Linked DNA regions of Homo sapiens. The protein of the gene in region 2 interacts with the protein of the main gene of each other region in a biochemical or structural test. Each region holds a gene or a part of one and is shown on either strand. Other genes may lie near its edges.

Region 1 (2,355 bases), on a different chromosome or scaffold from region 2:
CTTTGTGGGTGAGTCGACTGGCCTCCGCAGGAGGTGGGAAGGGGCAGAGGCACAAGGGGCTGAGCTCTCCCTGGGCTGGGCTGTTCATCCCTAGGACCCTCGGGGCCAGCCGGGGCCAGCCAGGGCCAGCAGTATTCACATCTGGAGCAGGCAGAGGGCAGCATGGGGCCTCGAGGCGGTATGAGGGTCCAAGATGTGTGGGTCTGGCCAGACCTTGACCTTCTCAAGTCTTGGTTTCTTCCCTTGTGAACTGGGAAGCTAATCCCAGCCTTGTGAGGCTGTTATGAGGATGGCCCTGAGTTTAAATCCAGGGATCCCAGATCCAATCCCTGCAAGGGCCAAGTGGGGACTGTGTCACACGGAGGAGGACCTCTTCTTCTGGGAGCAGTACTACTGGTTCATTCAGGAATGCCTGCCTGGCTCAGGCTGAAATCTAGGTGTTAAAGAGAAATCTGCTGGGCGCAGTGGCTCACGTCTGTAATCCCAGTGCTTTGGGAGGCCAAGGTGGGAGGATCGCTCGAGGCCAGGAGTTCGAGACCAGCCTGGGCAACATAGCAAAACCTCATCTCTACAAAAAGATTTAAAAATCTGCTGAGCATGCTGGTGGGCACCTCTAGTCCTAGCTATTTGGGAGGCTGAGGTGGGAGGATCCTCTGAGCCCAGGAGATCAAGGCTGCAGTGAGCAGTGATCATGCCACTGCACTCCAGCCTGGGCAACAGAGCAAGACCCTATCATTATACATAAAGAAATAAAAAGCAGGAGATCTCACTTTCCCTCTGCCTCCCAAGTAGCTGGGACCACAGGTGCATGCCACCACACTTGGCTAATTTTCTAATTTTTTTTTTTTTGTAGAAACAGGGGTCTTGCTATGGTGCCCATGCTGGTCTTGAACTCCTGGGCTCAAGCAATCCTCCCACCTTGGCCTCCCAAAGTGCTGGGATTACAGGCATGAGCCACTGCATCATGCAGGCAAATCTTCTGATTTTTTAAATTGTTTGCTACTGATTTTAAAATGAAACAGTGTGGGCCAAGCAAGACATAAGTGTGGGGGACATGTAGCCTTCGGATGGTGCATTTCTGCCCTCCACAACACCTGTACCCCATCTTACATCTACCTTGCAACCGTGCCGGCCCTAGCATAGTGCCACCCTTCTCTTCAGTGAGGCCCAGAGAGAGCAACTAGCCCCTGCTCACACAGCCAGTAGATCACAGAAATAGGTTTTCTGCCCATGTCTGGCTGGCTCTTCTCACTGTCTGGTGTTGCCTGTTTTAGAGGAGCAGACAAGGTCACAGTGAAGGAACTTGGGCTTTGAGCTGGTGGGAGAGGGGGCTCTACCAGGGGTGTGGGCTGGTAGGGCAGGAGCCCAAGGCTGGGAGGCAGATTTCTCTTTCTTTTTTTCTTTTTGAGACAAGAGTCTCGCTCTGTCGCCCAGGCTGGAGTGCAGTGGCGCGATCTCGGCTCACTGCAAGCTCTGCCTCCCAGGTTCACGCCATTCTCCTGCCTCAGCCTCCCGAGTAGCTGGGACTACTCCACCATGCCCGGCCAATTTTTTTGTATTTTTAGTAGAGATGGGGTTTCACCGTGTTAGCCAGGATGGTCTCAATCTCCTGACCTCGTGATCCGCCCATCTCGGCCTCCCAAAGTGCTGGGATTACAGGTGTGAGCCACCGTGCCTGGCCCTTTTTTTTTTTTTTTTTTTTTTTTTTTTTTTTTTTTGCTGTCTCCCAGGCTGGAAGGCAGTGGCACAATCTTGGCTCACTGCAACCTCCACCTCTCAAGATCAAGCGATTCTCCTGCCTCAGCCTCCCAAGTAGCTGGGACTACAGGTGCGCCAGCACACCCAGCTAATTTTTTTATTTTTAGTAGAGACAGGGTTTCACCATATTGGCCAGGCTGGTCTTGAACTCCTGACCTCAGGTGATCTGCCCACCTCGACCTCCCAAAGTGCTGGGATACAAGCATCAGCCACTGCATCGGCCACTCTCCCATTCTTGCCGACTGATGGAACCCCCAGTTTTGCTGGACACATGGGTGCCCAAAATAAAGACTATATTTCCCAGCCTCCGTTGCCACTGGGTGTGGTCATGTGACTGGGTTCTGACCAACAGGATGAAAGCAGAGGTTCAGGTGGCAGCATCCTCTAAGGATGGACGCCATGGGGCTCTGTCCCCTTTCTTCTCCTTCCGACTTCCTGCTGGCTGGAAGGTGAGCATTTTGGCGGAGGCTGAAGTGTCATCTTGCACCATGAGTGGTAAGTAAGCAGGTGCTGCCAACAGTCAAGCAACAAGGCGGAGCCTGGGTCCACCAGATCAGTCCCAGACCACCCACCCCGGGATGTTTTTAGATGAGAAAT
Region 2 (3,500 bases):
AATCAAGAGAGAAACTAAACAAGCGTTGATGTAACACAAAATAATTAAATGGAAAATTCTACTCATTTTCAATGGTTATTTCTTATACATTATTAGAAAAATAAAGTATTTTTAAAAGCAAGTCATGTTTCTATTATAACATTTGTGTGTTTGTAAAAGAAGAGCTGCATCAGTGATTTTAGTTTAAAATTGGTATTTCCTAATGGCCTATTTTCCTGATAATTTCCTGATGTTATCGGTATAACATTTCCATTAGTAGGGTCTCTACAGTCTCTGGATTTGAGTCTTTAAAGGGCAGATGTGGTCACTACCACAAAAGGTGACAGGCGTTTTCTATAAGGTCTATGCCACATCCTTTCAGCAAGTTACCCACTGCTCAGCTGAATACACAGAAGTATCCTAGATCAGTGGGTGTCAGGTGAATTCTTTTCCTGTCTATTTGAAATCAAATCTTTAGACCGGTGCAAATAAATCTTCATGCACTGAATATGATACAGGTTCTTTCAGATCAGAAGAATGTGTCTGAAAATCATATAGTATTTCACACAATGAACCAGTAGATTTGCTTGTGCCAAATGGACATTAAGTGAGTTTAATGAAATCATTCTCCTTTCTTAAGCTACAGAAGCAGCAGAAACGTTCAATTTTCCATTAGGATTTTTACCTGAGAAGTAGTACTGGTTCTAGACTCTGGGCTGCCACTGATGTCTAAATTCTCTTACAGTGTACACACGAGAATACCTGAAACACACACGCGCACAATCAATTACTAGATAACTGGGGTCAAGTATATTTTTAAAGTTACTCAAGCCTTACCTTTGCTGTTGCCCTCGCACGGAATTCGGGACAGCCATTAACAGTTATCGTTTCATGCATATATTGATACACCTAAAATGTTCACATAAAAAGAAGAATGTGTAAGAACATGAAGAATAATAATTCTTTTATTGCAGAAAGAAAATTATATTTTCACTGTAGGAAAAAAATTCTCTATTGCAAAATAACATAGGTCTGATGTTTGGGAATGTACCTGATAGCACTCCTTAAACAGCAGATATTATTACTCATTGTGATTTTAGATACAATTACAGAAATCATTAAAATGTAGTAGAAAAAAATTGTTTCTTATAAACTTCCAGGGATGGGATTATAAAATCTTTGTATCTATGGTAAAATAAATTGCTTAAACTAAAGTACAGAAAAAAAAAAACTTAAAGGATGCCTTGAGGAAGATGTTTGGAAAAAAGTAACAAGGTTAAATGTGTTGGACTATATGTTCATTTTGGATTTAAATAGTATACGTAAAAATTTATTGCATAATGCATAGCAATAAAAGTCCATTTGGTACTAGGCTAGAGTATTTTTGGGGAGTGATCCATTAGCTATTTCAGTAAAAAAGGAAAGGGAAAAACTGCAATCGAAGGTTGAAAGGTTTTTTTCTTCCTTTATATTAATCTTATTTTACATGCTTAACTCAAAAATTAAATAAGTGAATCCAACATTTGATTAATTCACCCATTCAACAACTATTTGTTGAGTGTCTGGGACTAATCTCTTCCCTGCATTTTTGACTGGCTCATAATTTCTCAAATACATTTGGTTGAATCTCCACTAACGCTGACTCATCTTTCCCAGGTGACATGGTTAGAAGGAAATTGACAAAGTAGTCTGTACTAAAAAGGCAACAGTGCAATTCAGAATCTAACTTTTAGCTCTGAATCTCCACTTAACAATTATGAGGTGTTCAATTTCTATGGGAAATCTGAATGGAGACAGGAACAAGTTTCCAGAAGATCATTTATGGAATCTGAGATATGTTACTGCAAATTCTCCAGGTTACCTGAACAGCTGCTAAACGTACTTCCAGATTATTTCCTTGGAAATGCATTATTTTGTTTCATAGAGACAGCCTTTCCAAAAATAAATTATACTATTTGCTCTAATAGCCCATTTCAGAGGAGGATTTTCCCTGCCCTGCTTCTCTTGTAATAAACTCTCTCAAATCTGACCCTTCATTCCACCCTAGCTCATTATCTCTTGCTGCAAGCATTGCATTAGTGACTTAATTGGGTCTCCCTGCCATCAAACCATATACACTTTGGTGATCATCAAGTACCTACCTGACCATGTCCCTGCTGTGCTCTTGGCTGTCTGCTGCCCTTACTGCAAAGGTGATAAGGGCAAATACCTACAGGAGTCAAGCCACAGATAATAATGCAGAACTCAGCCTTCTCTCTAGTTTTATTTTCCTGTTTTCTTTTCTCCACCCCCACCATTCCTCAAACATATTGAACTCTCCAAGTTACCTAGGTCTCTGCACATGCCGTTTACTCTGCTAGGAATGCCCTTCCACCTGGCAGACTCTTATTCATCCAAATTTAATATGATGATAAAAGGTCAAATTCAAATATTGTCTCCTCTATTAAATGTTTTCTGCCTCCCTCAAGCAGAGTGAGTCTCTCCACAGTTCCTGGTCATCTGAATTTGTTTGAAGTTATTTTGGTTAACATTGCCAGGGAAAGTGACTTTGCCTGCATCCAAGGATGTTTATGAAGACAATCATTTAGCAAATAATTGGAATATTGTCATCAATTGAATAAAACAAAAGGTGATTTTGTAAGTGCTGGAGATAAATACCTGTACCTAATAAATATCACAAATTAAGAATAATTAGCCTTAAGACCCCAAATTGATTTTGAATTAGAAAGTGGTATATTCAAGGAGCAATACTGTGTAGTAGATAATTTCACAGACTCTGAAGATGGCTTGGAAGCAAACCGTAGCTGTACCATTTAATTGTATGATGTTTGTCAGTCACTTGATTTCTCTGATCCTCAATTTCCTCATTTTAAAAATGTGCCTTAAAATAGTAAGTAACTTCTAGGTCTGTTATGAGGATTAAATAAGATAAGAACAATTTGCCATGTTTAGTATGTTTCCAAAAGTTAGCTATCATTGTTATGCTGTTGCTGGCATTTGATGTTTCTCATCTTATTTGACCATGGATCTTTTGGGGAAAATCTCCTAAGATGAGCAGTTCGTGAACACTGTTTACATAGAATTGATCAAGGGCTGTAGTTCTCAACTGGGGACAATGTTGCCCTTCAGGAGACATTTGGCAATGTCTGGAGGCATTTTTGGTTGTCATAAATGGGATGCTACTGCATCTAGCATGTGGTGGCCAAGGATGCTGCTAAATTCCTACAATGCACAGTGAAGCCTCACAGAACAAAGAATTATCTGCCAAAATGTCAATAGGGCTGAGATTGAGAAATCCTGATCTAAGGAATTAAGCTATACCTTTTCTTCGTACGTGCAATGATTGGTAAGCTGTAAAAACAGACTTGGATAGCACTGAGTAAAGGCTCTTGTAAAACATTCAATAAATATTTGTTGGAGTAAATTACCATAATTCTGGTATATATTTAATGAGAAATCACCATGGGCCAAATGTAATGCTAACCATTTTATATCCATGAGCTCGGTTAATTCTCCTAACT

What was found. The genes of interacting proteins can lie anywhere in the genome.
Region 1: the proteins of LIN7A (region 2) and PDLIM7 interact in a test that uses a peptide from one of them, tested with the Homo sapiens proteins (one large-scale study listed by IntAct).

What each region holds. Positions count from the first base shown.
Region 1 is NC_000005.10:177,485,250-177,487,604, forward strand, and holds part of PDLIM7 (PDZ and LIM domain protein 7), read right to left. Parts: intron 1-2,355. UniProt on the Homo sapiens protein: May function as a scaffold on which the coordinated assembly of proteins can occur. May play a role as an adapter that, via its PDZ domain, localizes LIM-binding proteins to actin filaments of both skeletal muscle and nonmuscle tissues.
Region 2 is NC_000012.12:80,847,435-80,850,934, forward strand, and holds part of LIN7A (protein lin-7 homolog A), read right to left. Parts: intron 889-3,500; coding exon 817-888; intron 742-816; exon of another isoform or gene 665-741; intron 1-664. UniProt on the Homo sapiens protein: Plays a role in establishing and maintaining the asymmetric distribution of channels and receptors at the plasma membrane of polarized cells.